7 linked regions of the Homo sapiens genome follow. The protein of the gene in region 7 interacts with the protein of the main gene of each other region in a biochemical or structural test. Each region holds a gene or a part of one and is shown on either strand. Other genes may lie near its edges.

Region 1 (3,500 bases), on a different chromosome or scaffold from region 7:
AGGTTGTCTTTCTTACTGATTTGTAAAAATTATTTGTGTAATCTAAATACTTTGTTATGTGTATTGCAAATATGTTCTCCTAATCCCTTTATTGTAACCTTGTTTGTGGTGGCTTTTAACCCACAGACACTTGACATTTTGATGCAGCTGGACCTGTCAGTATTTGCCTGTGTGATTTATACTTTTTGCATTTTGGAATTATTCCCTATCCCAAGGTCATAAACATATTCTCTGTGTTTTTCCTAGTAGTTCTAGTGTTGTTTTGTGTATTTAGGTCTTTAAGATATAAAAATGTTATTTTGGGGTGCAGTATATTTTAATATTTTTATTTTAATCTTATTTATTCACATATGGCATGTCAGTGGTCCCAATGCCACGTATTGAGTAGTCCCCATGGTGAGTTGTGATGATTTCTGTATCATATGCCAGGTTCTCATATTCATTTTGCATCTATTTCTGGATGTTCTGTTCCCTTCCATTGATCTGTTTGTTCCTGTACCATTTCCAGCATATTAACTATAAACTTGTGAAATGTCAGTAACTATGGGATGAATCACTATTTCCTATTTCAAAATTATCTGAGGTGCTCACTCACCTAAACTACATAAGTTTCATCCTCATTAGAATGATACACTCTCAAAATCACACTATCATTATCATATTTATAGGATTAAACAAAAACTAGTTAATAGTCACTGGGAGTCGACTTGCCTTGGATGATTGTATGAAGTTTGATGGAGGGTCAATGCTGGTGGTGGTAGTAGGGATGTGAGATTGGCAGGGTAGGAGTTGATCCCTATAGGGTCAGGAAATCCGAGGAAGGAGGATGTGAATGAGAACATCTCATTTTTACCTGAAAATATTTGTTAATATGCTGTGTTGTCATTGATCATGTATGTTCATAAGTAAAATTAATACTTCCAGTTATAAAGTTTGTGTTGGTTTCCAGCCTAGCAATTACATCTGGTCCAGGGGTAAGAAGTGGAGTGAATTAGATTTGGCGTATCACCCCAATCATATGTTAAAAATAATATATGTGTGTTATGTTTTCCTGTTGGAAAACATTTACATGGGGAGTATTTGACCCTTACAATGACTTTTTGAGGAAAGTAGAGTAAGAATGATTATCACAGTTAACAGATGAGGAACCTGAGGCACAGAGGAGGGTAAGTGACTTGCCCAAAATTATGGAACTAGTACGGCATGGGGATTAGGATTCTAATCCACATTTTAGTTCTATTTTTCCCCCCACCATGCTACAAATGTCTTGCACTTGTCTCTTTGGATGGGCGACCCACTGCTTCAAAGCAACTATGCTTCTAGAGGTTCTTTAAGTAGTGATATCCCGTTTCTAAATTGTTTAAGGTCTGATTAGTGTTTCCTAAAGCATTTTAGAATCTATTGTAGAGTCACCCAGAGAACCTGCTAAAATGTAGATTGCTGGGTCCAGACCCGCTGAATTTAAATCAAAGGTTTATTGAGCTATCCCTAAGAATGACTCCTTTCAGGCATAAAATGGTAAGTTGGTAGATGCAAATTTATGATTTTTAGTTGGCACAAAAATTATATTCATTATTTTTCTAACAAGCTTCTAAAAGACACTGCTGCTTTTTGTGACAGGCTTAGAAGACCACTGGTTTATGAAGTTGAATTTTTTGAGCCACAACTATACAAATATTAACTATGTGATCATAGTAATCTGAAAATGTTGGTATTTCTATTACTCCTTCAATCTCATGTGGGAAGAAAGGCTATTGTATATTTTTATAAAAATATACAAAAGACTTGGTACTGGATGTAAAGAAAGTTAAGACATACTGTTGATTAATTGTGATTTTTGGATACTGTACCATCTGCTAGACATAGAACATAACAATCAGATTTGGAAGGTTCTAAATCCAATACCTAATTCTCATAAATTGCCACAGTCCCCTAAAGAGTAACAAGGGGGAGTCAACATAATGAAAAGAAGAAATTTAAAATAGAAAGGATGTACCTTGAGATACTTCTCAAAGGTTCTAAATTGTTTATAAGCAGTAACTTTCATGTGGAAAAACAATGGTGTATGGAATGAAACAGCCTATGTCTACTATTCGCCTACTGGGACAAGTACAAACCCCTTAAACTTTTGAAGTCTCAGTTTTCTCATCTCTAAAATGTGGATCATAAAAAATCTCAGTACTGTGTGGTTATACAAGTCAAGAGAGTGTCTGCATGTGGAAGCACATTGTAAATAGCCTCATAAATGTAAGGTACAGTTACTATTAAGGACAAGAGCTCGAATCCATTCTTTTCCTGGATCAAATAGGCTTAGCCTTTATTGGATCACGAACTTCCCTTCTAGCCTGTGCCCTTTAGAGTTTGAGTGAGAATGTAGTGATGCTGCGGTGCCTGTCATCTTCACATGTGGAAAACCTCAAGGCATCTCTTTCTCATCCTGCCCGTGTCCCTGAATGGAATGTGATTCCACTTTTCCCCAAATCCCTATAATACTTTGTCTACTAAAAGTTATTAGCACATTTTCTCATGTATACACTGACCTGCCTGCTGCTCCATAAATTGAGGGCAAGGACTGACCACATGACACTAAGACTATGGACTACAGAGCCAGACTGCCAGGAGTTGAATCTTGTTTCTTCTACTTAACAGTAGTGTCACCATGGCTAAGTCACTTAATCTCTCCAGACCTCAGCACTTACAGAAAGATTGCTATGAAGAGGAAGTGAGTTAATATATACAAGAGACTAGATCAATGCCTGCCATATTGTAAGCACTATATAAATGCCAGCCCTCAGAAGCTTTCCATTCTTCCCAGCATCAAGAATAGTAAGTACAGGTTTGTGGAATAACAGAATTTCTAAGGCCTTCATTTAGTGTCAAGATGACAGATAGATGATATGTGTTGCCATTTCTCTGTCTGTGCCACTCTTTCAAGTCTGCGTGGAGTCCAGTAGCCACTACCAATTGATTGGGGTACCATATGAGAAAACATTTGTTTGCCTTATATGAGCTGACATGAACTCTATCTCAAAAGCATAATGATCTAGGCCATGGTAGTATATCTTAAGTGAATCTTTTTTCTTTTTAATTTCTAGTTCTTCCTCCTCAACCAGAAAACATCAAGATTTCCAACATTACACACTCCTCAGCTGTGATTTCTTGGACAATATTGGATGGCTATTCTATTTCTTCTATTACTATCCGTTACAAGGTTCAAGGCAAGAATGAAGACCAGCACGTTGATGTGAAGATAAAGAATGCCACCATCACTCAGTATCAGCTCAAGGGCCTAGAGCCTGAAACAGCATACCAGGTGGACATTTTTGCAGAGAACAACATAGGGTCAAGCAACCCAGCCTTTTCTCATGAACTGGTGACCCTCCCAGAATCTCAAGGTTGGTTGAATGGACAAGTATTTACATAGGATTACCGTGCAGCCCTATAGGCAGCTGGTTTATCAGGACAGGCCTGTGAGATGAAAGCCTATGAAAAGTCGGTGG
Region 2 (2,905 bases), about 94 Mb from region 7:
GCAACCATCCTCCCGCCTAGCAGGACAGCCCTCCCAGTATAATTGTCCCCTGATGAGCACCAGAGTCCCCGCACCTGCACTGTCAACCCCTGGCCAGCGTTACTCTCCCCTGCCCAAATGTACTGTCTCCATGGGGATCATTATCCCCCAGCCAGCACTACTGTCACCCCCACCAGCATCACTCTCGCCCTGCCAACATGACTCTCCCTGGCCAGCATTATTACCCCCACCAGCATCACTCTGCTCTCCTCCCTCCACCCCCACCTTCCCCACAGCCACACCAACCTCAGCCACCTCTCAGGCCACCACCACCACCATCACAACCACCCAGTCCAGCCCCCAACCACCAACACTCTAAATGCCTCCCGGTCAGGACTTCTGCCCTCACTCTCACCCCTGCCCCTGGCTCCCCCCAGGCATTTCCTAGCTCTCCCATCTCCCTCGCTGCAGTCTCATGCCTGTTACCATCCCTCCCACCCCTGCCATCATCCTGCCATCTCCACCGTCAATGAATAAACATTTATTGAGCACCGGCAAATCCCAGACACTACAGAACACACAGAAGGCATGGCCCCACGCCGAGGGCCCCAGCCCCTTGCAAAGCTGCCACGCTGCCAAAAATGGTGGCGCATGCAGCTCAGGCGCAGGCTGAGGCTGGGGCTTGGCCGGGCAGTGCACTTGGAACGGGGTCCTAAGGCCTCTGCCAGGTTCCAGCTGGGGCAGGGGTCACGTCGCTTCCTGAGAGCAGAGCAAATAAATAATGGAGAGGCAGGGGCTGGGGCCTGAGGTGGAGGGGCTCTGGCGTTGGCTTATGTGACTCCATAGGAGCAAGACAGGTGGCCGGGAGCCCCCACCCCAGGGTGGGGAGGCAGAGCCAGGGGACCACAGGGTCCTGGGGCCTCCCTGGCACCTCCACTGGTCCCTCGCCTCTGGGGCCAAAGCAGGGTGTGGGGGGACACCCCAGAAGGCACTGCTGAAATGCGGCTGGACTAGAAATGAGTGGGCAGAGAAGCTGGGGCTGGGCTGCAGTCCCTAGAGCGGGGCGTCATCAGTCCTCCACTTGCGGGGGTAACCCTGCTGGTGGCCATCGCAGCGGGGGTTCCCCATGCTGTCCAGAGGCACCACCACCTCGTCCGGGTTCGAGTTCTTGTTCAGTTCCACCACGCGGGGTACCACCGAGGACCAGCGATCTGCACCGAGAGCACATCAGAGGGAGGGGTGGGGGTTGGTGGAGAGAGAGCGTGCGTATATTGAGTGCCTACTGTGTACTGGGCACTCCACAGTGTTCTGAAGGGGGGATGTGACTATGCTCATTTTACAGAGGTGGAAACTGGGGCTCAAGAGAGGTCAAGGTGCCTCCCCAGGAGAGAATGGAGGAACCAGGATTCAAGCCTGGAGCCGAATGCCCTGAGTGCCTGTGTCCTCTCCAGCTGCGTCTCGCGTGCTCATGGCTTACTGGACAAACAGGAAGGTTTTCTCCACACAGGGATGGCTGAGGAGCTCGTCCTCCCTCCCCAGGCCAGCTTATGTCAACAGTAGGGAGGGCCAGGATGAAGCCACGTAGGTGAGGTGCCCCAGGCATTCACAAGCAGCAGAGGAAGCTCAGGGGCACACTCTCTCATTCTGTAGACACGGACACTGAGTCCCGGAAAGAAGCAGGACTGCTCAAAGCAAATTCGTGATGAGAATGGACTGGGGCTCCCCTCCGCACCCGCCCCTCCACTCACCCCTGCGGAGGCGGCCCACGGTATGCGAGAAGCCATAATACTGGTAGGTCTCATTCTTGCCCGGGTCCTCGTTGATGATGCCCAAGTTCTGGTTCCAGTGAGACCAGTTCACCTCATCCACCCTGGCAGGGCCCAAGCAGAGGGTCATGGGGAACCCCTCAGAGACGCTCTCCATGCCACCATCCCCAGCACACCCTCCTATTTTTTTATTATGGTAACATATACATAACAAGGCTGGGCGTGGTGGCTCATGCCTGCAATCCCAGCACTTTGGGAGGCCGAGGTGGGTGGGTCATTTGAGGTCAGGAGTTCGAGACCAGCCTGGCCAACATGGTGAAACCCCACCTCTACTAAAAATTAAAAAAAATTAAAAAAAAAATTAGCGGGGCATGGTGGCGGGTGCCTATAGTCCCAGTGACCCGAGAGGCTGAGGCAGGAAAATCACTTGAACCTGGGAGGCAGTTGCAGTGAGCCGAGATCACGCCACTGCACTCCAACCTGGGGGACAAAGCAAGACTCCATCTCAAAAAAAAAAAAAAAAAGACGTGTGTGTGTGTGTGTGTGTGTGTGTGTATACACACACAAAAAATTTGCCATCTTAATCATTTTTGAGTATACAATTCAGTGGCATTAAGCACATCCACATTGTGTGACCATCACAGCTATCTATTTCCAAAATTCTTCCATTCCCCCAAGCAGAAATTATTTTTTTTAACCTTCTTTTGAGACAGGGTCTCACTCCATTGCCCAGGCTAGGGTGCAGTGGCACGATCACAGCTCACTGCAACCTTGACCTCCCAGGCTCAAGTGATCCGCCCACTTCAGCCCCCCATGTAGCTGGGATTACAGGGATATGCCACCACACCTGGCTAATTTTTTAAAAACGTTTTGTAGAGATGGGGTTTCACTATGTTGGTCTTGAACTCCTGGGCTCAAGCAATCCTCTTGCCTCGCTTCCCAAAGTGTTGGTATTACAGTCACCACGCCTGGCCCAGATAATATTTCACTGTACACATAGCCCACATTTTGTTTATCCACTCATTTTTTTATATATTATCTTTTTTTTTTACATATTATCTTTAATTTTTTATCCTATCTATTCATTTTTGTTTGTTTGTTTTAAGGCAGAGTCTTGCTCTGTCCGCCAGACTGGAGTGCAGTAGTGCAATCTCGGCTCA
Region 3 (3,500 bases), on a different chromosome or scaffold from region 7:
ACACCTAAATCTTCTGATTAAAAACTTCAGGTCAGAAAGATATTTAGTTCTTTGTCTCCACTCTCGTTCTAATAAAAGGAAGGACAAGAGAGACTATAACTTAACAGAATTCCAAATGTATTTGGCATTTGGCTGAAGTGATATTGCCAAACTACCAGAACTATGGCAAAAGATATTGTAAGAAAACCCACAAAAGGTATTTAGTGGCTTGACACCATAAATGTGCGAGTGGCCTTTAGCTGCAAAAAATGATTAATCTTTCCATTTTAAACCAACTTCACCCTCCTTACCTCCAATATATTTCTATAGTGTCCGTCTTTCCTAATTTTGTGACAATTACAAATACATATGATATAAATATAAGAAAGATTCTGCGTACTGAGTGGAAGATGCCAGACACAAAAGAGAATATGGTTTCACAAAGTATAAATGAGCAAAAAAATCATGCTGTTGGAAGTCAAATAAATAGTTACCACTGAGGGACGGTTAAAATTGGAAGGAGGTACTGGTAAAACTCTGTCTTGATTCAGTGCTGATTAACTAGTATGTTCCATTTAGGAACATTTAGCAGGCTGTCCACTTCTATGTATATTTTCCTGTATGCATTTGACACTTCCATAAAGTAAATGTATATGTGTGTATTATATGTACATAATCTGAATTTTGAGTTCCCTAAAATATCATATCAGGTAGCAGGATATTAGAACTCAATCGTAAAGGTGTTGACACCAAATAGACTTTAGCAAGAGAGTGGGTGCCAAAGGCCAATATTTTCGCTGCAAAAACAGACTTTTCTTTATTTACTCAACCCGAGAGCCATAAAGAATGAACTTCAGACTTTGAATGTCTGTGTTAACCAATTAAGACAACAAAAGGAAAAATAATAACAAAGTGGTCACAGTTTCGAGTTTATTAAAGATTTATGTTAAGCGGGAGCGGGGGGATTACATCCCCTTTCAATTTAGTAAATGTAATTTTTTTTAGTCCTTTATTTCAGATTCCACTTAATAGTTTCCCAACCAACAAACAAGACATTTCGTGCAAGATTACAGTCAAGCCAAGTGTATCCACCCACCAACAACAGGTCAAGTTACAAGTAAAATAGTTCTAGGTTTTTCCCAGCAGCAAACAAATCAGTATCTGTACTCAGTTACACTACAGAATATTCACCGGAACTTGTCTGCAGTGGGTCATTTCAAGATGTGGACATGTATATTAAAATATGCCAAATAACATTATTAGTGTGCGAAAAAGTAATGCAAAGTGTTCAAATATGGAAAATGTTTGAACATTAAACATTAAAACTTTTCAAAAATTGGTGGTGGAATATCTTGCATTTACTTTCACCCTGAAGAATATGGAAAAAAGAGTTTCAAAAAAAATGTGTGGTCTTGTGGCCTGAGAGTTTATAGGCTTTCAGAAAGTATTTTAAGTTCCAAGATTCATTAAAAAAAATTATTTTTGAGTACTTACCAGCATATTATTTGTTGATCAAAACTATTAGAAGAACTTTTAAAAACTGATTATGAATGCTTCTAAAATGTTTTTTCTCTCCTAAAGACCACAGGAAAAAAGAATGAAAATCTTAACCAAGCATTATGTTTTGGCTTCAGATGCCAAAAGAAAGCAAAATATTTAAGGCCAAGATTAAACAGAGAGTGTAATTCAAAAGTTAATTATTTAAAGAAAAAAAAATCAACTAAGTAGAGAGAAACTGAAACTCTTCTTTATTGTGACAGTCATTCTCTGGGTATTATACAAAAAGGGCTGCAGTCTGATAAAGGGAGAAACCCGTATGCTTTGTAGTCAAGCCCAACTTGAATATGACAAATATGGTTTTATTCTGGATTCTCATATTCAGAATGTTTGAGTTCCAGTTTTACCATCTCTAAAATGAGAGCAAAACCACCTATCTCATAGAGTTACAGAAACAATGAACTGAAACATAATAGTTTCCTTCCCTGAAATTAAAAATACTTAATTTCTGAGGTTTAATACTAACAGACATTGGCTTGAAAAACTCTTTAAAGAGGCAGCAGCAAATACCTAGTTTCAAGGGTTTTCTCTGCTGTATCTGCTCTACTGAGTTCTGTGAATGACGTACTGACAATTACCAAATATAAAATAAATTGAGGAATGTCTTAAAACTGCAGATGTGGGAAAAAACTAAAAGGGCAATCCTTACAACCTTTAACGAAAGCAGTAACATCAAAATCCAATATTTAGTGCAACAGAAGAAAGTTAAGAAAACTCAAAGTGTATTTTAGTAATGAAGGGAGAAAAGAGTCATTTTACATTTTTAGTGCCAGTGATTTCTGGAATAATAAAAACTCCAAACTATGCACCTTTTAATTTACTTTTTAAAACTAATTATTTAATCCACCCAAACATTAAGTAACATATCAGAATGGAAAGAAAATCTGGGCATACATGTTTTAAATTATAATGGCCAATTAATGTTTTTAATTACACAAAAATCAGTATTAAAATTAAAACTACAATATATGGGAGTAGGTAAGTACACTATCTAATTTTTAAATTATAGCTAGGTATATTTTATGAAAGAAAATCTAAGAACAGATCATGGATCAAACATCTCTGCATTATAATTCCCATACCATATGTATAATAGCAACTCTTTTTAAATAGCTCAAGCTGCTTTAAAGCACTATACAACTAATTCTCCCAATGCTACTTTGAAAAACCCAAGTTAAACTGCTTACTTAATCAAGGCAGTGGGTACACTAGAACTCTCATTCATATACTAAATGTTCTTCTGTATCTCCAGTTCCACATACTAGTAAGGTCCACTTTCAATTACACTTCCACTATTAGAACAGATGAAAAGTTAAACATTCAATCAGTCAGGAGAATGTGAAATATTACCATGGTTTACCCAACTATTATAATCTCTCAGGCACTGAGAACTCAGCATAAAGTGGTTATTCCATGATGTCAGCATGGAAACGTATCCATTATTTAGCTATCCATTAATTCAGCCAATCTTCCTTTGGATCTACTTATAGCTCAGGCTGCTATAGGTTGTTCTAAACCTAACTTGGATTGTCCTAGTGTTAGTTTAGGTTATCTTCATTCTTAAATCTACTGTTTGATTGTATATTTCTCAGTTATAGCTTATATTGTGGTCTGTGTCAAATTAATCCTCATTCAGAAGCCTGAAATCCTCATTTATTTTGGTTGTCCTTCTCTGTAGCTTTTTTAAATTTTATTTTGAGGTGGAGTCTCGCTCTGTTGCCCAGGCTGGAGTGCAGTGGCATGATCTCGGCTCACTGCAACCTCCGCCTCCCGGGTTCAAGTGATTCTCCTGCCTCAGCCTTCCAAGCACCTAAGATTACGGGTGCCTACCATCATGCCCAGCTAATTTTTTGTATTTTTAGTAGAGACAGGGTTTCACCGTGTTAGGCAGGATGGTCTTGATCTCCTAACCTCGTGATCCACCTGCCTTGGCCTCCCAAAGTGCTGGGATTACAGGCATCAGC
Region 4 (3,500 bases), on a different chromosome or scaffold from region 7:
GTGACCCTCTGCTTCTCCTCTAGCCCCTGAGAGGACCTGCCGAGCAACTTTGATCAACGAGTCTCCAGTGCTAAGCTACATGGACCTCGTGGGCTTCAGCTACCAGGTGGCCAATGGCATGGAGTTTCTGGCCTCCAAGAACGTACGTGTGGTGTTGGTGGGGCAGAGTGGGGGCTGTGGGGAGGTGGGTCACCCAGCCAGCCAGCATCCTCCAAGAGCACACCAGGGTGGCCTCTCGCACATGGGCAGTGTTGTATTTTCCCAAAGCCCTTGACATGAAGGGTCTTTCCCCACAATTGTCCCCAAGGCCTCAGCTCCCCTCTCCCCAAACCCAGTGCGTCCACAGAGACCTGGCGGCTAGGAACGTGCTCATCTGTGAAGGCAAGCTGGTCAAGATCTGTGACTTTGGCCTGGCTCGAGACATCATGCGGGACTCGAATTACATCTCCAAAGGCAGCGTGAGTACCTTCCCTGGCCCCTGCAGGGCAGTCACAGTGCCTGTGACCGCAGGAACAGATTCCCTCCTGACCAGTGTGGCTGCAGCTCATAGGAAATCTGTGTGGGGCTCCTTGTGGCCTGCCCTGACAGCAGTGATGGGCTGTGCCTGCCCAGCTATGTGTGCAGGGACAGGATGGGGAGCCGCCCAGGAGTGCATGGAGCAAGTATAGCGGCGGGGAGGGCTGGCTATAATGGGTCCAGGGTGGGGGAAGGGGGAACAGGCCGAATGTGTTGTTCCAGTGGTGGTGGGCAGAGGAAGAAGCCCAGGTGACAGGGCAAGAAAGATGAGCAGGTCACATGCAGTAGCAGGGATTGGTCTGGTTAAAACGTGATCATCCTGCCTGTCTCTCATCTCCCCACTTTTCCGCAAACCCCAGATGGAGGGACGCTAGGCCCAGAGATCAAAGGCAGCCAGGATAAGAGCTTGGGGGGTGCCTTGACAAGTCCCTGGCTCCCACACTTCACTACTCAGACCCTGGGGCTTTTCCCCAGGGACAGGGGCTGCCTTGTCCCCAGCTAGTGAGAAAGGAAACAGCCTCTGGTCCTCTGACCAGCCCTGGGATGGACATGGGAACTGTGCTGCGCAGAGACCAGGGCCCTCACAGGGAATGGGACGGAGAAGTGGTTGTGGGTGGGAGCTGCCAGATACCCTCCTCCCATCCCAGGTGCAGAGTGGGGCTGAGGTCCTTCCTTGCACTCAGCACCTGTCCTGACCTCCCTACAGACCTTTTTGCCTTTAAAGTGGATGGCTCCGGAGAGCATCTTCAACAGCCTCTACACCACCCTGAGCGACGTGTGGTCCTTCGGGATCCTGCTCTGGGAGATCTTCACCTTGGGTATGCTTGCTTCCTCCTCCAGCCCTCAGCATCCTGGCCTGGTGTCTACCTCGACCACTCATGCCTCTGGCCTGGTGGGGCTATGGGACGAGCCCTGATACAGGGATCCTGGTTCAGGTCCCAGCTCTGCTACCTTCTCCCTGCTGTGTGATGTTAGCAAATTCTTTGCCCTCTCTGGGTCTCTTTATCTCCCTGTCTGAGCATTGACAGGTTTGAACAGTGACATCAGAAAGCCTGCTTGGCTCTCACATTCTGGCTGTCTATCCTGGGGAGGGTTGTGGTCTCTGTTCAGAGCCCATGAAGGAGCCCACAGTTCCAAATGCCAGGGGCACTGCCCCCTTACCCATACCAGGGCCAGCATGGCTCTCCTTGTCCTGTAGAAGAGGGTGCCCTGCCACTTTTCCACCCCTGAGCCTGTGTATCTCTTGTCTCTGCTCCCCAACAGGTGGCACCCCTTACCCAGAGCTGCCCATGAACGAGCAGTTCTACAATGCCATCAAACGGGGTTACCGCATGGCCCAGCCTGCCCATGCCTCCGACGAGATGTGAGTGGAGTCTCATGCATTTGGGAGGATTTTGTGCTGCAAACAATAGATATCCAACTCTACTGGCTTAAACCAAAGATGAGAGATTTGTTAGCTCAGAGATCTAGAAAGCCTTGGTGTAACTGGATCCAGCCATTCAAAGGATGGCATCAGGAACCTCTTGTTCTAGCCCTGAGCTCTGCTTTGCTCTGTGTGGCCTCATTTTCAGGCCAGCATTGCCCAAATGGCTACCAGCAGTGCCAGTCTCATGTCCTACTGCTTGCTCCATAGTGCCAGCAAAAGTCCCAGAGCTGACCTTCAAGGGCTCAGGTGGGGTCACATGCCATCAAGAACCAACCGTGGAAGCTGCAGGGCTGAAAACTGTTGGCGAAGGTTGGCTCCTGTGCTCACCCAGGCGTAGTCAACCTGTGGAACCATGTGGAATGGGGGCTCTGCGAGGGCCTCCCAAGGGAATATCCAGAGACAGGACCTCTGGATACACCCAGCCACCACTTCCCTCCAGCTCCTTTCCATGGCTCACCTTGTTCTGAGAGGCAGCAGCCTCCTGCTCCCCCAGCCCTGCCTTGTCCCCTGAACCCTGGGCCAGAGGCCCTGACCCTTCTCCCTATCCCCAGCTATGAGATCATGCAGAAGTGCTGGGAAGAGAAGTTTGAGATTCGGCCCCCCTTCTCCCAGCTGGTGCTGCTTCTCGAGAGACTGTTGGGCGAAGGTTACAAAAAGGTATGTTGAGGCAGGGTAGGGGTGGAGCACGGAGAGCTCTGGTGCAGAAGTCAGACACCGAGTACAAGGCTCTGCGTGATGGGCTGGCATTTAGGGGACCACCCTTTGTCCTCTCTGGGCCTCAGTTTCCCTGCTGGTTCTAGGAGGGGATGGGCTGGCGCTGTGAGTTTATTTTAGCAGCAGAGAGCTTTATGAAATGGAATCCTACATGGAAGCTGATCGATTAGATGCAGGGAGGGGGCCTAGAGCACTGTCTGTCCTGCTGCCTCCCTCAGGCCTTTACCTCCATACCGAACCGTGGGGCTCCTTCAGAAGTGTGAATAACCCCAGGTTACATGACCATGAACCGCCTGACCACTTGGATCCTGTCACAGGATTGTCCAAGGCCCAAAGAGCCAGTAGGGCCCTGAAACCCTGCCCCGTCCAACAACACGGGTCCAAGTGAGGAGGAAATACACATGGCCTTTGACACAGAGGCAGCTCCTTCTTTGGGTCCATTTCTCACCCCCACTGCCCCCCGGGGATGGTCCCAGGGACCTGGGAGATGGAGTAAGGTCATCACCACTTCACAGCAAAGGAAACTGAGGCCCTGAAGAAGGACGCTGAGGCAGCATGAGAGCCTGTGCCTGTCTGCTCTGAAGTGGGGGAAGAGTTAGAGTCCTGGGTGCTGGTCTGATAACTGCCCCTCCCTGGGTGGTCCTGAGCTCACCATGCCTTGTAAGATTCTATGTGAGGTAGGAGGGCAGCTCAACCATGTGGCTTGGGCAAATCCCTTTCCCCTCTGAGCAGCGGGGGTCTTATTTATACAAAGGGGGATGGGCTCGGTTAGAAGATCCCTGAAGGCATTTCTGGCCTGACCATCCCTGTTTCTTTGGTTCTCCCTGCCCCGGGAGCAGAAGTA
Region 5 (3,500 bases), about 100 Mb from region 7:
GTCACAGGGCCAGGCTCAACCCTCCACCCCAGCCACACTCCTGTCTCCCACCATGAAACCTCAGCTGAAGGGAGGCTAGGAGACACCATCAGGGCCAAGGGTGCAGGGACCGTTCACTCCCCTCTCATATTCCCTAGGTCATGCCCCAAAGGTCTCCAGCTGACCCACGTGGAAGTATGAAGTCAGCAGCTGCTGGTGAGTTCTGTCAATATCAATCCCCAAGGAAACACTGAATCCTCTAAATTAAACATCTCAGGCCTGGCAGGACTGGGGAGGCCCAGCAGGGGAGGGGAAGGGCAGGTACCTCGTGCAAGCCTGGCCCCATGGTTTCCCACAGACACGCTCGTGGGAACTCAGAGGCCCTGGAGGGCGAGAGGGAAGGATGGGAGAAGAGTAGCAAGGGAGGCTTGTGGATTCAGGATCAGAGGCAGAAAGAAAGAGGATGTGTTGAGGACAGCTAGCGTGGGAGATGGGGCTCCAGGGCAAATGACCTCCCAGGCACAGGCTCCCAAGTCCCACATGGCCCAGCAGAGAATGCCCTCCCCCACCCAGAGCAGCCATCAACACAAGGTTCTTTGTCCCAGCGTCCCAGCCTCCTGATCCCCTCGACCTGAGAGGCTGGGAGCACCCAGGGAGGAAGGAATGTCCCAGCTGAGCACTTCTCCAGCTTGTCTGCCTTCACTGGCTACTGCAATCCTCAGGCAGGCTGACCCGGCCCTCCCTCCCCATCTCCTGGCATCACAGCAAGGCCAGGGCATGACAGTGTCCCTGGCTCAGGGGCAAGGCACCCAAACACTGAGATGCCAAGATCCAGCTACCCACACTGAGGTAAGGGAGGAGAAGGATGAGGGAGGGGCGGCAGGGCAGGGAAGATGGAGGGTTCACAGGGCACCTTGAAATCCGACAGCGAAGCCATCAGCTCGTCCAGCTCCCTGGTGGCAGAGGAGGCCGAGATGCGTGTCTGCTGTTGGGTGGAGGTGACGCGCTGCGGGCTGCTCATCTCGCCCTGGTTCACAGTGATGGCAGGGCTGCAGGGTGGGCACAGCATCAGTGGGGAGCCCACAGTCAGCCCCACACTTCCCGGGGATCAGATCGACCTCTCACCTCGGACACTGGGGTCTCACCATCCCCAACCCCAGGGAGGTCCACCAGCTCCCTGTCTCTCCTGGGGACCCATCACTGGGTCAGAAGAAAGGGCAGTTCAATGGCACCAGGAAGTGCCAGGAAGACTCCTCTAGCCCCCAGCCCAAGTGAAAGCTGGCCTGCGAAACAAGCCCAAGCGCCCTGTGTTTCCTCCACAACACTGGACATGGAGGTGAGGCTACTGCAGTAACACGACGGCACTGGTAAGAGCTCGCGTGTTGGGCACTCACCATGTGTGCCACGCACTACACACCAGAAACCATTCCAAGCGCTTTACATGGATTACTGGTTCTCACCCTTACTGAGGTAGGTGGTCTTATCCCAGTGATCCCATAAGTTCTTGTCCCATTTTACAGATGGGAAAACTAAGGCTTGAGAGCTGACAGTAACTGTCAGAGCCAAGATGTGAACCCCACTGTGTGGCCCCAAAGCCTGTGCTAAGAGCTGCTAAGCTCCAGGCGCCCTCAGCCTGCACAACGTCTGTCCTTTCTGACTGGCAGTGACTGGCTGAAGGCAGGGATGGTGTCCATGTGACTCACCACTATCCCCCCAGTGCCTGGCAAATGGCAGACACGGGAGGGAGTGGGTGATACCAGGGCTAAGGGGACAGACACTGGACCCGGGGCAGGCTGGGCCAGCCCTTCCCCACCTGGGGAGGGCCCAGTGGGTACTCACACGGGGCTGGGCACGGAGCTCTCCAGTTCATCCAAGAGACTCTCCACACTGGGCCGCACGTCCTCCAGGCCCCGGCCCCCATTCCGCTTAGGCTTCTCTTTCGTCAGGGGCCCAGCTTTGCCTCCCAAGGGGCTGTTAGTCTCTGGGACACCATAGAGGGGGCTCAGGGCCCCAGGAAGCGGGGGGCTTGAGTTGGCCTCATCTTGCAGAGAGGAGAGAAAAAGGCTGCTCAGCCCTTGAGCCCTCCTGGGATCTAGAGGTCAGCAGATGGGCCCTGGGCCCTGGTAGACCCTGCCCCAGGGACCCGGTCCTACCTGCAGGGAAGCCTGGCGGGTTATGCTGTACAGCGTTCAGTTCCAGCAGCAGGCGGTCGAGTTCAGAAAGGTTGCTGCCCAGGGACGTGCTCATTACGGTGGGTGAAGGCTCAGCTGATTTCTGCTTGTTGGGGAAGCTTTGAGAGGCAAAGGAAAGAAGATAGTGAGAGATGCTTTCTGGCCTTGTACTGGCTTGGCAGTTCCCAGATTCCCAAGGAGAACAAGGCAGAGGAGATGCGAAGTCTTCCCCCGCAAGAGGACAGAGGGTAGGGAAGGGATGTGGTAAGAAGAGGGGAGGAGGCCGGGCACAGTGGCTCACGCCTGTAATCCCAGCACTTTGGGAGGCTGAGGCGGGCAGATCATGAGGTCAGGAGATTGAGACCATCCTGGCTAACACGGTGAAACCCCGTCTCTACTAAAAATTAGCCAGGCGTGGTGGTGGGTGCCTGTAGTCCCAGCTACTTGGGAGGCTGAGGCAGGAGAATGGCGTGAACCCAGGAGGCGGAGCTTGCAGTGAGCCGAGATCGCGCGACTGCACTCCAGCCTGGGCGACAGAGTGACAGAGCGAGACCCCGTCTCAAAAAAAAAGAAAAAAAGAAGAGGGGAGGAATGAAGTCTTGCTTCAGTTCCTCAGCTACACGGAGATGCTGTGATAGCCCAGAATGTCCACTGCATGGAGATGGCACTGATGAGGTAGACGGGCCCACCGACAGGCCTTCTGCAGCTTAAACCAGAATAACCCCACAAGGCCCAGTTGCTATGCCTGCTCCCGGGCCTCCGCTGCCTCCCACCCTGGCCAGGTCCCTGAGATTTCTAAGCAGGAGGGAAGGTGCCCTGGGCAGACTGGGGCAGTACCTGTAGACGTGCTCCTCCTCACCCACTCGGGAGCACGGAGAGCCAACACTGTCCTGAGGGTTGGAGACACTGGAAGTTTTGGCACTGGAGCCGTACACAGGTGATGAGGACTGAGGCTGCGAGAAGGAGAATGCTCAGAGGCTACCCCGAGGGGAGAAAAAGGAACAGGGGCCAGGAGCAGCTCCAGTCACCCCCAGGAGGCTCCTGCCCACAGCCAGTCTCACCAGGGAATTTCCACAGTTGGGCCAGGAAACCTGTGATTAACCACTTGGTCACTGTTCCACTCACGTGGTGAGTGGGAAGAGCAGTGTCTGGTTGGGAAGGGTCGACTGCCCCAATTCCATTCCATCCCCTGGCTCCCTAAGCCCCTGCCAGCTAAGTTCCCTCTGTCCCCCAGCCTCCTTGGCCTTCCCAGCCACTGTCCCCGCCTCACCTGCTGGTGGATGAATCGGGAGCTGCTGGGCTGCCACTGGTCTAAGGGGTCAAGGATTGTGCCATTGAGGGCCTCGCTGG
Region 6 (3,500 bases), on a different chromosome or scaffold from region 7:
CATCTTTCCTTTCCTTCATGAACTAAATGAACTGGTATATGAGGCAGTTCTTCTTTAGAGAACTACTAAATGCAGATGGAATGACAAAATTAGGAAATCACCATTTTGTAACCCCTAATGAAATAATGACTCTAAGAAAGAATCATTAATGAACCCCCAAATCATCAGGGTAAATACCAATGAAGAACTTTATGACAGAGGAACAAGTCTGACACCTGAACCACTAAGCAATCTTAGCATTACTAAAAGTAGGACATCCAGAGATCACCTTCTAATGTGATCAAGCCTCTAGCTCTACTCGCCAGTTCACAAGAAATACAAGAAACACAGGCATATTAAGTGACACCACAAGAAAACAATCTGTTTCATCTAGATTATGGCTCATTTTAGTGTTAAATGACCTGCTTTCATCAATAAATCAAAAATGTAGAATAAGAGAAACATAAGAGATATATTAACCAAAATGCAGTGTGTGGGTCCTGATTTGAATAAACCAACAGTAAAAATAAGTATTAGAGCTAATCGGGGAAACTGGAATTACATAATTGGTTCCATCCTTAGACCTGGGCCAGAGAAGCTCTTGCTCTAACCCCACACTTTTGAGAGCTCTGCAAAAGTGCGTGTTCCCTCTGACCTGTGTTCCCATGCTCCTTTCTGGGTAACTAGGACCCCAGAACACCCTGCTCATTTCCAAGGTCTACATGGGCCTTCTACTGGGTCCATCTTCTAAAAAACAAATTGTGCTGGCTGGCCATGTGCATTCCCTTTCACTGAGGCTGAAGGTGTGGCCATGATGCGGGGTAGCTTTTGCAAGCCACGCAGTAAGAGTGTGGGTGTACAGGTTGGAAGATCCATATGGTACATGAGAGATAGAGCCAGGGCAGGAGGGAAGAAAGAAGAGAGGTAGCCCCCCCAGAGCCAGCTTTCCATGCACTGCAACATTCTGGCACAGAGCTCTAAATCCAAACCGTGCCTTTCTTGTCACTATGAAAGGGTATTTGTCAAGTTGGAGGATAAAGTTTGCTAGCTTGATTTATAACTCCTAAATACTTAGATATATGTTATGTGGATTCTCATTTGTACTCTTCCTCCAGGTACAAAAATATTAAGGGAAAGTCTACAGACGATCTTATTTAAAATACTGTTATTAAGAATGATAATGACATGGTGGTGTTTTTTTTAAGTCTTTAGAATTTAGATTTAGGAGTGAAATAACATGATGACTTGAATTTACTTTTAAATATTCTAGAAAAAAATGGAAGGATTAGACTGGCAAAATGTTGGTAATTTTTGAAGTCAAGCAAAAAGAGATTCTATTATACTATTATATACTTTTTGGATGCTTGAAAATTTCTACAACAAAAAAAAATTAAAAATAGAAATCAATCTTATACAGCATCCGATAAAGAGAAGCAGTGACAACCTTCCTGTAAACATGGAATAAAAGGTTAAGAGTTGCAAATAAGTTAATAATGCACAGCAAAACAGCACTCATATATGCACCATGCCTAGGAATCAAGCAGAAGAAAAGGACCCCGCCTAAACTAGAGGTTTCCACTGCTTCTCCAGAAGTGAACTGAGGAACAGTGACTTGAAATTGGGGCTGGGGCTGGGAGGTGAGAGGGCAGGTGGAAGAAGAGTGTGCTCTGGCAGGACAAAAAGTTCTCCTCTTCTCATCCACTGGAACTCAGAGTATAAGTGGGATTGCACTGCAGAGGTAAACACAGGATACAGAGTTTGCTTATGAAGCCTGCAAGATACTCATCCCCTACAGTTACCCCTATCTGCCCATATATTTATCAATGATAGGGTTGAAAGGACTGTTTTCTTTAAATCCTAAATTAACTTGTACAAAAAAAAGCTTGCTGTTTAATTTCCTGCATGTACATATATATATTTTATATATACATACACAAACACATATACACACATATAGACACACACATATACATATATATATATTCTCTTATTCCTCCATATATTCATGGAGAGAGAGAAAGAAGTGAGAAGAGGCTTCATTATACTGTGTATGTGTATGCATACACACACGCACATACACATACGTATATATAGAGAGAGAGAGTCTAAGAAAAAAATTACAATAAACTCTTAGAAAAATCTAAGATTACTTACTTATGGCAGGTGGGGACAAAATATAAAATTTAATTTCCCTCAAGGTCAAAATAATCACATTAAACATGTATCAGATGAGAAAGAGACCAATGTATTCTAACTTTTGAAAAGAAGTGATTGATCAATTCGCATTTACTGAGTGACCACTAAGAAAGGACTGTGTTACTACCAAGTAATAAGGTGTGCTTCCATTTATGGCTGGTGAAATTAGTCTCATTACACGATAGTTACGACTTATCTACTTCTCACTCAACACTTGACTCCCACCTACCCACTGCATATCACACACATAGAGGGAATACTTACCCATATTTATCTCTTGCTCTCCACCAATGAACATCATTCTTTTCTAAAATGAGATACTCTTGGCCTCTCTCTAATCTGAGATCATGTCCTTCTGCTGCTTGGAAATCATACATGGCTACAACGATTTCTTCACTATTATCTTCTTCTTCTAGTGGAATTGGTGGGGGAGGCCTTCGCTAGACAAGGAAGATAACATTTGAAAGTTTAGTCTTCTATATGAAACTGATCATGAATCAAAACACTAAATGAGTCATACATCACCACAGAATAAACTAGAAACTTCAAGTCTACTTACTATAATCCAACAAACTCTCATGAAGAAGAGTATTATAATTCCTGTTTCATAACTAAGGTAACAATGATTTAATTAACCCACTCAAAGTCACTCATATCAGATCAAGTCTTGAATGAGTCCAAAGTGCATGTTTCCTCCACTATACCCCACTCCTGAAAGGCATATCATTATATCAGTGAAGTCACTTCTTTGTCACACTGTGGTCTTAAGACTGAAATATTTATCTAAATCCCACTCCTCTTAATACAACTCTTTAAGTGAAAATAGAGGCAAAATGCCAGATGATAACAGGATCTCCAATGATAAAATCTCATACAATTAAATTGGTATTATTTGACACCACAAAAAATTGAAATAAGCTACAGCACATCTGCTTCTGAGACGATCCTAGGGAAAAATTGTGTCACATCAATGAATAAACCGCATACTCAGTAAGTCACAAACACTACCAAAACTTAAGACTTAAAGGCTTAAAATGTAAAGATTAACTATCAAAAGCTAAAGACCACCTACCTTCTTTGTTTCTGGTGCTGGAGGTAGTGCTTTTCTTATACCTGAAAATGCCAACAACAAAAACAGATTAAAATGCTATCTACCAATAATTGATAAAAATAAGATATGGGTAGTTTTAAGGAAAAGTGGAAGTTAACACATAGACAAGCAGCACACTCTGACCAACTCTGGTGTATGCTGCTTGTATCTCTATTCTAGAACAGAATTAAAAACTGCTATTATAGCTGGTTTGTATTTCTGCCTTTCTGAACGC
Region 7 (3,500 bases):
AATAGCACAAAAAAGGGAAACATTCATCATTTAAATCTCATATAGATTACTATTAATATAATTCTGATCTTGCACCACTACTTGTAGATAAATTGCATTCCTATTCTTTTAATTTGCTAGTAAATATACCAAAAATCACATTTAAAAATAGGTTTATTTAGTTTAAATTTTCATTAAGATAGAAATAGTTTTGTTAGAAAAATGAACTGTGCAGCATTCCTATTTATAAAGAGTGAAAAACCAAATAGATAAAGAGTATTTGATAAGAAAATACATTTATTTGCATATAAATAGAATTGCAGTGTATTTGTTTTCATCAAATGTTCTTCATTTCATTCTCTAATTTCCCCTATATTCATTTTCTTACAGAAATTACCATTCATACTCATAATTTGCAATACCGCTCTCAAGCTTGAAGTCCTATTTCCATTTCTGATTCTCTGTTTCTGAAATATTTTTCCAAGCATATATCACTTTTCTCCCTTTCATCTCAATTTCCTGAAAAAAAGGAAAGAAAAAAACCTTTTATCAGGAAATCCCCGCAACCTTGTTTCAAACATCTTCTGTTTGTTTGGTGGTTTTAAAATATTCAGAAGAAAAAGGAGCTGGCCTTTAAGTAACTAGAATGTCTAAGGAAAGAAGAAATCTTTCATTCGGGAATTAGATGCTGAAAGACTTGCGAACGCTTTTCTGGCACAAGGCTAAGATATGATCTTACTCATAGAAATAAATTCAAAGGTACAATGTGCAGAGGAAAAAAAATCTAAGGATTGGTGTTCTGAAGACCTAGAACAAGCTTGGAAAAGGGAAACATTAGGAGTAATTGGTGATAGCAGATTACATGAGAGGTATTTAATTAAGGAGGTTATTCACATATACTTTTTTTTTTTTTTTGAGACAAGTTTCACTCTTGTCGCCCAGGCTGGAGTGCAATGGTGTGATCTTTGCTCACTGCAACCTCCGCCTTCTGGGTTCAAGCGATTCTCCTGCCTCAGCCTCCCGAGTAACTGGGATTACAGGTGCCTGCCACCACACCTGGCTGTTTTTTGTATTTTTAGTAGAGACGGGGTTTCACCATGTTTGCCAGGCTGGTATCGAATTCCTGACCTCAGGTGATCCACCTGCTTCAGGCTCCCAAAGTGCTGGGATTACAGGCGTGAGCCACCTCTTATTGGCTGATAGAAACCCTATGGGACCTGCTGGAGTCAACAGCACCAGGAGAGAAGGAACCCATTCACACTCATCCCAATCCATTCACACTCTTGCTCACTTTACTTGAGCCACATTAACCTTGTTTGGGTTCCTCAAATCAATGACACCAGCGCACAAAAAAAACTTACATATTTATTTGAGCAAAAAGAGCTGATATAATGGGTATTTAAGATGACTATAGAAGAGTTCTGTAAGAAATTGGGTTATACGACCTTGGATTAAACACTACCATAGGGATAACCAAGACCAGGGTGTAGAAAATACTTCATCTCTTAAGGGTGATGTCTGACAAAACATTAGGAGGATTTCTACTAGGAACACAGAAATCTTGGTCAGTTCTGGTTGGTTGTGGTCATAGCGGAGTGGTGATGTGGAAGAGGAGGCAAAAATATTACCTGTATATCTGGGTACTAGCTGAAATTGTAGGTCACCCATACAGGTTAAAAAAATCAATTTCCCCTAGTATGTCATTTGCTACTTTTTAATTAATAACATTAAACAGAGGTGAGGTAACATTAATGAATAAATGAGCAACTGAGAATATTACATTTCTGGGAAAAATAACTGATATTTTAATTTATGGTTTTAATAAGATTCTAATATAAGTGATTGGTAAAATTTTTACTATTTGAATGTAATGAGTGCATTGTAGTTATGATTATTTAACTCCCATAATGATAATTTTCCTATATTTTCCTTAAAGATGTGTTCACAAGTCAATATTACAATATTTCATAATTCTCAGTCAGAGCTTTTATATAATGCAGAAAATTTAAATCTGTTTATTAACCTTCTATTAAATTCCTAACACCACATACTAGCACCATGAAAGATAGAAATATTACAGTAGACATTCCTTTATTTCAAAAATATTTACAACATATTTGGAGTAATTAAATGAAAACATTAAGTGCTTTACAGTAAAGCTCATCACTGCACTGGGATATGTTTCTGAAAATGCAACATCACTGAAACTGTGTACGGAGAGGCATTAAATTAGGGGAAAATGAAAACTTGTGGTCATTGTTGTTAAGCCTTCTATTGTGCCACACTGCTACCAATTACAATGTTTTACTTAAGTGCATCAACTGTATCTGACATCAAACATTCTTTTACAACCCCTCAAGTTAGAATTATATTTATAAGGTTCAGGAGTAAATCTGCTTATACGTTTAAATACCTTTAAGTTGGATATTTAGATAGTAGAAATAGTGTTACATTTTAAAATAAAGTACAACTCATATTGTTTTTAATCAGTTATCCACATAAATGTGCATTTTCTTTTGGGCCAAAATGAGGCAGAGGTGTAATGTGAATTTTTCATTCCTTCACACAACGATAGTCTCTCACAAAACAAAGAACAAAAGGAAACATATGTTCACAGTGGGAAGGATTATTACTCGATCATCTGTAGAAGCATGGCCCAGGGAGCCTTTGCCAACCTACTGGGGATGTCACATGTAAAAAGGTTTCTCCAAAAGGTTGGCAATATGATTTATTAAAGGAGTCAGATGACATGGGAGTTAAGGGCAGCAAACTTCATTGTGATGGAAAGGATCTAAGCTGCTCCAGCAAAATGAAAGGATTATGGTTCACCTGCCAACACTGTGCAATTTATGGATGAAACCTCAACCACGAAAAGTGAAACTTCTTTGTGTGTGTGTATGGGGTTGCGAGGGGAGACATAGGAAAGGAAAGGCAGACAGACCGTGGAAAACAGATATTTCCCCTGGATAAGAGTAGAATGGCCAGTATCATAACACTCATGTATTATAGAATTAAATATAAACCTGTTTCAGAAAGTACAATATTAAGACCCTTTTTAAATTTGATATTCTTTGATGATATCTCTGGTAAAAGCAGAAATAGAAAGAAATAGAGAGAAGGGGTTAAAAAAGAAGGACACACGCCAAGCACTTGAGTTTAGGAATATATTCCAGCTGACTACTAAAAAGCAACATTTCAGGGAAGGCCAACTTCAAATTCCTATGATGTCATATTCCACGATTTGCACCTTAGTAGACAAAGTACTTATACTGAGTAAACTGATACAGGAAGACATTTTCTAGGAGGGCTTTAGTAAAGATAGGACAAGTGTAGGAAGTTACATTTCTTTCACTGGGAATTATGGGAAGACACACAACAGCGAGGCTCGCCAGATAAATACCTCACTTGCATTCATCCATAGAAGACTTTGAAATTAGTAGCCTTCAATATAATAACAGAGTTCCATTTTTTCTTCTATTTTATATACACCATCAATATTGATATAAAAATAAAAATTTTCA

Evidence for each region.
Region 1: of the proteins of PTPRO (region 7) and TEK, one has a biochemical effect on the other in vitro, tested with the Homo sapiens proteins (one large-scale study listed by IntAct).
Region 2: the proteins of PTPRO (region 7) and TRPV4 interact in a test that uses a peptide from one of them, tested with the Homo sapiens proteins (one large-scale study listed by BioGRID).
Region 3: of the proteins of PTPRO (region 7) and CDH2, one has a biochemical effect on the other in vitro, tested with the Homo sapiens proteins (one large-scale study listed by IntAct).
Region 4: of the proteins of PTPRO (region 7) and PDGFRB, one has a biochemical effect on the other in vitro, tested with the Homo sapiens proteins (one large-scale study listed by IntAct).
Region 5: of the proteins of PTPRO (region 7) and PXN, one has a biochemical effect on the other in vitro, tested with the Homo sapiens proteins (one large-scale study listed by IntAct).
Region 6: of the proteins of PTPRO (region 7) and TEC, one has a biochemical effect on the other in vitro, tested with the Homo sapiens proteins (one large-scale study listed by IntAct).

The regions. Positions count from the first base shown.
Region 1 is NC_000009.12:27,199,725-27,203,224, forward strand, and holds part of TEK (angiopoietin-1 receptor isoform 1 precursor), read left to right. Parts: intron 1-3,095; coding exon 3,096-3,395; intron 3,396-3,500. UniProt on the Homo sapiens protein: Tyrosine-protein kinase that acts as a cell-surface receptor for ANGPT1, ANGPT2 and ANGPT4 and regulates angiogenesis, endothelial cell survival, proliferation, migration, adhesion and cell spreading, reorganization of the actin cytoskeleton, but also maintenance of vascular quiescence.
Region 2 is NC_000012.12:109,782,589-109,785,493, forward strand, and holds the end of TRPV4 (transient receptor potential cation channel subfamily V member 4), read right to left. Parts: intron 1,850-2,905; coding exon 1,728-1,849; intron 1,191-1,727; coding exon 1,033-1,190; 3' UTR 501-1,032; downstream 1-500. UniProt on the Homo sapiens protein: Non-selective calcium permeant cation channel involved in osmotic sensitivity and mechanosensitivity. Activation by exposure to hypotonicity within the physiological range exhibits an outward rectification.
Region 3 is NC_000018.10:28,167,131-28,170,630, forward strand, and holds part of CDH2 (cadherin-2 isoform 1 preproprotein), read right to left. Parts: intron 1-3,500. UniProt on the Homo sapiens protein: Calcium-dependent cell adhesion protein; preferentially mediates homotypic cell-cell adhesion by dimerization with a CDH2 chain from another cell. Cadherins may thus contribute to the sorting of heterogeneous cell types.
Region 4 is NC_000005.10:150,117,846-150,121,345, reverse strand, and holds part of PDGFRB (platelet-derived growth factor receptor beta isoform 1 precursor), read left to right. Parts: intron 1-23; coding exon 24-142; intron 143-335; coding exon 336-458; intron 459-1,222; coding exon 1,223-1,334; intron 1,335-1,779; coding exon 1,780-1,879; intron 1,880-2,493; coding exon 2,494-2,599; intron 2,600-3,495; coding exon 3,496-3,500. UniProt on the Homo sapiens protein: Tyrosine-protein kinase that acts as a cell-surface receptor for homodimeric PDGFB and PDGFD and for heterodimers formed by PDGFA and PDGFB, and plays an essential role in the regulation of embryonic development, cell proliferation, survival, differentiation, chemotaxis and migration.
Region 5 is NC_000012.12:120,220,731-120,224,230, forward strand, and holds part of PXN (paxillin), read right to left. Parts: coding exon 3,421-3,500; exon of another isoform or gene 3,104-3,420; coding exon 2,988-3,103; exon of another isoform or gene 2,270-2,987; coding exon 2,133-2,269; exon of another isoform or gene 2,021-2,132; coding exon 1,819-2,020; exon of another isoform or gene 1,029-1,818; coding exon 893-1,028; exon of another isoform or gene 585-892; intron 196-584; exon of another isoform or gene 1-195. UniProt on the Homo sapiens protein: Cytoskeletal protein involved in actin-membrane attachment at sites of cell adhesion to the extracellular matrix (focal adhesion). Recruits other proteins such as TRIM15 to focal adhesion.
Region 6 is NC_000004.12:48,165,339-48,168,838, forward strand, and holds part of TEC (tyrosine-protein kinase Tec), read right to left. Parts: intron 3,289-3,500; coding exon 3,248-3,288; intron 2,616-3,247; coding exon 2,440-2,615; intron 1-2,439.
Region 7 is NC_000012.12:15,325,508-15,329,007, reverse strand, and holds part of PTPRO (receptor-type tyrosine-protein phosphatase O isoform a precursor), read right to left. Parts: intron 1-3,500.